Linked DNA regions of Homo sapiens. The protein of the gene in region 2 interacts with the protein of the main gene of each other region in a biochemical or structural test. Each region holds a gene or a part of one and is shown on either strand. Other genes may lie near its edges.

Region 1 (3,813 bases), on a different chromosome or scaffold from region 2:
ACAGGGAGAAGGTGTGCAGCGAGACCCATTAGCAAATGCTGCCCAATGCCCCACCATCCCCCGGGCTTTACCTTGGTGAGCTCCTCAGTAAGCTCTTCTAGATTATTCTTCTGAATCCCCTCCTGCTCCTTAGGAGTCAATACTGATGAATAAAAAGGCAGCACTTTTTCTTCTTCGGTTTCAAATTTCCTACATATTTCAGCAAGTTTAAGGATCTTTTCACCCTATTTGAAGCGGGAAGAGAGTTTATATTAGGAAAGGGAGTGAAGAGGGAAGCTAGTGGAGTTGGTTCCCCTGTTTGAACCCAGGGAAGCTACTCATCCAAGTGGGAAACAATAGCAATAAATACATATAGCAAATGGAGGTTACCATGTAACACACACTATTCCAAGTATTTTCTTATTGTAAAATTGATTCATAGCCTGGGAAACATAGAAAGACCCCATCTCTACAAAAAATTATTTAAAAGCCAGGCATGGTAGCACATGCCTACAGTCTCAGCTACTGGGGAGGCTGAGATGGAAGGATCACTTGAGCCCAGGAGGCAGAGGCTGGAGTGAGACGAGATGGTGCCACCACACTCCAGCCTGGGCAACTGAGCGAGACCCTGTCTCAAAAAAAAAAAAAAATCATTCATTATTAATAATTCATTCCTTTAAAAAAAAAACAAACTCATTCTCTCATTCTTTTTTTTTTTTTTTTTTTTTTTTTTAAGATGGAGTTTCGCTCTTGTTGCCCAGGCTGGAGTGCAGTGGCGCGATCTCGACTCACCGCAACCTCTGCCTCCAGGGTTCAAGCGATTCTCCTGCCTCAGCTTCCCGAGTAGCTGGGATTACAGGCATGTGCCACCATGCCTGGCTAATTTTGTATTTTTAGTAGAGATGGAGTTTCTCCATGTTGGTCAGGCTGGTCTCGAACTCCCAACCTCAAGTAATCCACCTGCCTCGGCCTCCCAAAGTGTTGGGATTACAGGTGTGAGCCACTGCGCCCAGCCAAAACTCATTCATTATTAATTCTTTTTTTTTTTTTTTTTTTTTTTTTTAGACAGGGTCTTACTCTGTCACCCAGGCTGGGGTGCAGTGGTGCAATCCTGGCTCACTGCAGCCGCGATGTCCCAGGCTCAAGTGGTCCTCCCATCTCAGCTTCCCAAGTATCTGGGCTCACAGGCATGTGCCACTATGCCCAGCTTTTTTTTGGTAGAGATGGGCTCTCCCTGTGTTGCTCAGGGTGGTCTCAAACTCTTGGGCTCAAGCAATCCTCCCACCTTGGCCTCCCAAAGTGCTGGGATTACAGGCATGAGCCACCATGCCTGGCCAATTCATTTCAATTTAAAATGTAGACCAGACGCGGTGGCTCACGCCTGTAATCCCAGCACTTGAGAAGCCAAAGTGGGTGGATCGCTGAGGTCAGGAGTTCGAGAACGTCCTGGCCAACATGGTGAAACCCTGTCTCCACTAAAAATACAAAAATTAGCCGGGTGTGGTGGTGCGCACCTGTAATTCCAGCTACTCAGGAGGCTGAGGCAGGAGAATTGCTTGAACTGGGGAGGTAAAGGTTGCAGCGAGCCAAGATCATGCCACTGCACTCCAGCCGGGGCAACAGAGTGAATAAAACTTCGTCTCAAAAAAAAAAATAATTAATTAAAATGTAAGGGGGAGCTCAACGCAGTGGCTCATGCCTGTAATCCCAGCATTTTAGAAAGCCAGGGTGGGAAGATCGTCTGAGGCCAGGAGTTTGACCCAGCCTGGGCAACATGGCGAAACCCCATCTCTACAAAAAATACAAAAGTTAGCTGTGCATTGGGGAGGCTGTGGCGGGAGGAATGCTTGAGCCCAGGAGGCAGAGGTTGCAGTGAGCCAAGATGGTGCCACTGCACTCCAGCCTGGGAGACAGAGTGAGACCCTGTCTCACCAAAAAGAAAAAAAAAAAAAAGTAGGAAGGGGCTCACCAGGGTGGCTCACGCCTCTAATCCCAGCACTTTGGGAGGCCAAGGCAAGAGGACTGCTTGAGGCCAGGAGTTCATAACCATCCTGGGCAACACAGTGAGACCCCATCTGTAGAAATACATAAATAAATAAATTAATTTAATTTAATGTAAGAGGGGAGGAAACATGGAATAAAAAAGGTATTCCAAGTGTCCACTCAGCCAGGAAGCAGGAAGAAGCCCCCGCTATCCTTTCCAAATCCCTTTCACTTTGCAGGGAGGCAGGTTCCTTGACTTTATTCTGATAGTCCTCTCCCCTGTGTTACCTTATCAACAATCTTTCTCAGGGCCTTGAGGGTGGCATTACTTTCCAGGGTGAGTCTGACTAAGTTCTTCTGGGATGCTGCCCGGGCCTGAGTTCTTTGGGCCTTAAGTTTTCGCAGTTGTACAAGGACCAATTCCTTGTCATTACGGATATACCGGTTCTCATCTTCACTCTCACGGCTGTGTATCATGATCTTGCCTTTTGAAATAGTTATGGCATCCTAGAGGAACAGAGTAGATTAGGGGAAATCTACTTGACCAACTGAGGGTCTTCAGTGAGACAGGTAAAAGGGCTGCCTGGGGACTGAAATCAGAGCATATCATCTTTTCCCAACCAATGATCAGTGATGAGGCCCAGGGGAAACAAGGGGAAGCAAAAGAGGGGATAATAGAGCAGTTAAAGCAGTGAGTATTTCCAGGTGGCTACACTAACCTGTAGTTTCTGTATTTTTTTCATCTGTACTTCAATCTCTTTGGAGCTCTTCTCATCCTTCACCTGCAGGGTCTCAAAGGCAGCCTTTCGATCCTCTGTGGCATCAGTGTAATTCTTGAGTACATCCTGGAACTTTCTCCACAGATCTTCTACTCTGTTCTCCAGGTGCAGTCTTAGAAAGTGCTTCTCTTCTAAATTCTAGCAAGTGACCCCAAAATAGCAAATGTTTGGAATTACCTTATTAGTGCCCTTTCACTTCTACCAGCAATCCCACCCTCTTGAACTGTTTGTAGCATAGTTTAGTACAGAGGTCTCCCATGAAAATGCCTACACAAGACCAGGCAGATGATATAAATATGTTTTGTGGGCCGGGTGGGGCCTGTGGTGAACTGGAGAGGAAATGCTGCATTTGGGAGGAGGAGGGGCAGTCACTGAGCTCCACGTGAGCCTTGCCATTTGGAAATGTGGCCCAGTGTTGCCAGATCTTTAAATTTTTCAAGGGAAGCTGAAAATTTGGATGTTTTTGTGAAATCTCCAATTTTTAAGTGTAGGATGCTTATTCAAAAAATTGTATAAAACACTGTGGGGTAAATAAAAACAAAGAACTCCATACCCAAACCTAGGTCTGTGGGCTGGCTAAGATTGCAACCTCGAGGACAGTGGAAAGCACTTTGGATCAAGGGGCAGGAGACCTAGATTCTCCTGATTCTACCACAAACCAGCAGCATGACTTTGGCAGGTCATTTTACTTACTTGTGCCTTACTTTCTTCATCTGAAAATCACAGGGGTGAAGCCAGATGATCTCCTTGGTGCTTTTTAGCTCTAAAATGCATTCCCTTGACAATTTAGAATGGTCCTCCCTCCCAACCAATTTTCACAAAATTACAAAAAGCATTAGGGATACCTACAGGGGGCAATAGATGTTTTATTGACTGTGTTGGCTAAAGGGGTCTCTTCTACTTCTAGTAGCCTTGAGCATTTTTCTTTTTTTCTTTTTTTAATTTTTTTGAGACAGGGTCTCGCTCTGTCACCCAGGCTGGAGGGCAGTGTTGCTATCACAGTTCACTACAGCCTCCATCTTCTGGGCTCAAGCGATCATCCTACCTCAGCCTCTTAAGTAGCTTGGACCAT
Region 2 (3,813 bases):
AAAAGTATTTAGTTCTCCTCATCCCAACTCACCATGCTAGGTGCCCTCCACCCACCGCCCCTTCTCTTCCTCTCCTCTCCCCGTCAGTGTTGCAGAGGAGCAAAGTAAAATGTCAGCATTGCCATTTCTTGGAATATAAAAATTCTAATGCTTTTGTTTTTTAAAAAATATTGAAGGGACAACAAATAAATGGCATGGGGAGAAAAGGAGAGTGACCTTATTAAAAGACAAAATGTGTGAGCTGTTTGGATCTTGATGTTAAAAAAAAAAAAAAAAAAAAAGGCCAACACATTTTGGGGCCAGGCACAGTGGGAGGATCACCCGAGGTCAGCTTGACCAATATGGTGAAACCCCGTCTCTATTAAAAATACAAAACAATTAGCCAGGCATGGTGGTGGGCACCTGTAATCCCAGCTACTCGGGAGGCTCAGACAGGAGAATTGCTTGAATCTGGGAGGCAGAGGTTGCAGTGAGCCAAGACTGAGCCACTGCACTCCAGCCTGGGCGACAGAGTGAGATCCCTCTCAAAAAAATAAAAATAAAATTCCCCAGCAAAAAAAGAATGGGAGTTTGAGGCTGCAGTGAGCTATGACTGCCCCACTGCACTCCAGCCTGAGTGACATGGCAAGACCCTGTCTCAAACAAACAAAACAACAAAAAAGCCCTGCGTCTACTGTTCACCTGCTTTTTTGTATATGTTTGAAAATTTCCAGGATACAGTTTGAATGAAGGGGTAATATGGGAGAACTTAGCGGGGTGGCGGGCGGGGGGACAAGTCTCCTGGTGTTCAGGGGCTTCCCAAGGACACAGACAGGAAAGGGAGACCAGAACAGCCCCACAGCGCTCACAAGTGGAAACCCAGCCATGTGCCCTTCGGCCTTTTCTTCCTCCCTCCCAGCCCTGGCTCCACATCCACAAACAGGGGTTAAATGCGCTGAAACAGATCATATGAAGGAGCTCTCTGAAAGCTCTAAGAAAGTCATGCATCAGCTGTCAAAGGGGGTCCCATTCTTTCTCACCAGAAGAGGGCAGCACTGTGTGGAACAGGCTCCTGCCTCTGGTGGCGCTGCAGTGGGTGGGTAGGGGGAGTCTAGGCCTAACTCTGTCCTGACCTAAGCCTGCTCAGGGCCTGGCTGTCTGCACTGTGCACCTGCACCTGTACATGTTCCCAGAGCCAGGAGCTCCTGGGGGAGGGCAGTGCCTACACTGAGTGCAGGCCCCCACCTAGTGAACCACAGGCCCCTTGTTCTCAGGAGCCCTCCTTACCTGAGGAGCTGGTTGTACTTGGCCAAGCGCTCAGATCGGCAAGGGGCACCAGTCTTGATCTAGGAGAAAAGAAAGGCCATTTGCTTACAGCGGACAAGCTTTGCAGGCATTTCTGGCAGGGAGAGGGTGTGGTGTCAGAGAGAGAATTTCTAGAGGATCTGATGCTAGGAAAGTGGGGGCCACAACATACAGGCAGGGCGCTCATGCCCCCATTCTGTTCAGCCTCAGAAACAAGAGCACTGACTCAGGGGACATGAGCAAAACGGGGACAGACATGGAGCCTCACTGGTTTTGGGTCTTCCTAGGAAGTTGAGGTCAGAGAAGAAAGGAGGAGACGCTCATTCTTACCTGCCCAGTGCACAGCCCCACAACCAGGTCAGCGATGAAGGTATCTTCAGTCTCCCCCGAACGATGAGACACCATGACGCCCCAACCATTGGCCTGGGCCAGCTTGCACCTGGAAGCCAAGGAACAACCCAGATGGCATGATCCCATTTTCTGGTTCCATAACCCCCAATGCCATTACCCCTCGGTGCCAGCAGGAAAGCAGTGGAGGGGCTGTTAATGGCTAAAGCCCTCCATGCCTGGGCTTTGTCAAGAGCACAGAGGAGAACCCTCACCCTCCCCTGAACTCTTCCACCCCCAGGACCTTCTTAGCCCTCCTGTCATAGTTGAAACACTGGGTTCAGCCTCCCTTGATGGGAGAAAGATTAGTGTTCTCTGACAGAGCTCTTCACAGAATACAACTACTTGCTATGTTGCCCAGGCTGGTCTTGAGCTCCCGAGCTCAAGTGATCCTCCTGCCTTGGCCTCCCAAAATGTTGGGATTACAGGCCCCAATTGTTTAATTTAAAAGGCTCCTGAGTTCAAACACAAAACCTGTTAAAATTCCAGCGAGTCCTACATTCTGGCCAGCAGGATTCCCCATCACCAGAACAAAAGGGCCCTTTTCTGATTCACAAGCCGTAGCTGCGGGAAAGCTGCTCGCCTGGGAAGACACTTACGCCTGAAGAGACTCGGTCACGGAGCCAATCTGGTTGACTTTGAGCAGGAGGCAGTTGCAGGACTTCTCGTTCACGGCCTTGGCGATCCTCTTTGGGTTGGTCACTGTGAGATCATCCCCCACTACCTGGATTCCTGCACTGGCTGTGAACTTCTGCCAAGCTCCCCAGTCATCCTGGTCAAAGGGATCTTCGATAGACACCACTAAGGAAAGGAGGGACACGCTTCATCAGTGTGATCCTCCCAGTGTGCTCCACCGCAATGCCCAGCCTTGCTTCCCCCTTGACTTGCTGCTCGCCTGGCCTCACAATGCCCAAAAGCATAGGATGGGGACAGCTCCCCAACTGATCCTTGAAACAATGTGCCCCAGCCTACTCCTGCAGCAGGGGACAAAAGTCACCCACAATCCTGGGTATCTATAGATCTAAAACAAAAAAAATCTCACTCTGTCACCCAGGCTTGAGTGCAGGGGTGCAATCATAGCTAAGTGCAGCTGTGAAATCCTGGGATCAAATGATCCTCCCACCTCAGCTTCCTGAGTCGCTGGGACTATAGGGGTATGCCAACCTACCCAGCTACTTATTTTATTTTATTTTTTTGTAGCAATGGAGTCTTGCTATGTTCCCTAGGCTGATCTCAAACTCCTGGGCTCAAGTGATGCCGTTTCAGCCTCTCCAAGTGCTAGGATTCCAGGCGTGAGCCACCATATGCCCAGCCTCAAAAATTTTGTTTAAGACCTGTAAGAAGAGGACACTTTTTGTCTAGGGTTGTTTGAGTTTAGTGCCACTGAAAATCAGAATGGAGCCACAGACTCAGAAGTGAGAAGACCTGAGTTTGGGTCTTGGCTCAACCTTGACCAAGTTATTTAGGGTAGTGGTTAAACACACAGACTCTGGAGTCAGATTTCCTGGTCTGAATTCTTGCCCCACCATTTGCTGTGTGCTCTCGGGCAGATTATTCAGCCAGCCATCAGCTTCCTCTCCTGTAGAAAGGTGGTCACAGTCTCTATCCTGTGCACACACACAGCCTAAAATGAATATTCCCAGCTCACAGGAAGCATGATACATCTCAGTACCAAGTGGCTGTTCTGATTCTGAAGGCTTGGTTCCCTCACCTGTCTAATGGAGCACAGACTGCCTCTGCTCCTGACTGTGAACAACTTATTATGCAATGTCGCTGCTGGCACCCGAGCTCCTTAGCTACACAAGAACCTCTGTGAAGCCCTGTGTATGCACAACTGGGGGCAAACCCAGTGGTGAATCCCCTACGGGAGCTGGAAGTTCAGACACTCCCTCCCCATCCCCTCCTTGCAGCCATCACCAGCCAGCCAGATGCTCCAGCTGCCCTGCTGCAGGTCAGTGGCAGGAAAGGGAGATGGCACTCGGGGAACACTCACCTGGGTAGTCCTTGATGAAGGACTTGTACAGGTCAGCCAGCTGGTCAGGCGAGATGTACCTGCTGGGGTCATCGGGAGACTTGAAGTCCAGGTCATACTTCCCAGACCTGAAGAACTCGGAGGCCGCTACGTCCATGCCGATGACCACC

Evidence for each region.
Region 1: the proteins of ENO1 (region 2) and DRC2 form a complex in vitro, tested with the Homo sapiens proteins (one study listed by BioGRID).

The regions. Positions count from the first base shown.
Region 1 is NC_000012.12:48,917,341-48,921,153, reverse strand, and holds part of DRC2 (dynein regulatory complex subunit 2), read right to left. Parts: intron 2,880-3,813; coding exon 2,682-2,879; intron 2,470-2,681; coding exon 2,251-2,469; intron 225-2,250; coding exon 72-224; intron 1-71.
Region 2 is NC_000001.11:8,861,621-8,865,433, forward strand, and holds part of ENO1 (alpha-enolase), read right to left. Parts: coding exon 3,665-3,813; intron 2,473-3,664; coding exon 2,271-2,472; intron 1,724-2,270; coding exon 1,615-1,723; intron 1,326-1,614; coding exon 1,267-1,325; intron 1-1,266. UniProt on the Homo sapiens protein: Glycolytic enzyme the catalyzes the conversion of 2-phosphoglycerate to phosphoenolpyruvate. In addition to glycolysis, involved in various processes such as growth control, hypoxia tolerance and allergic responses.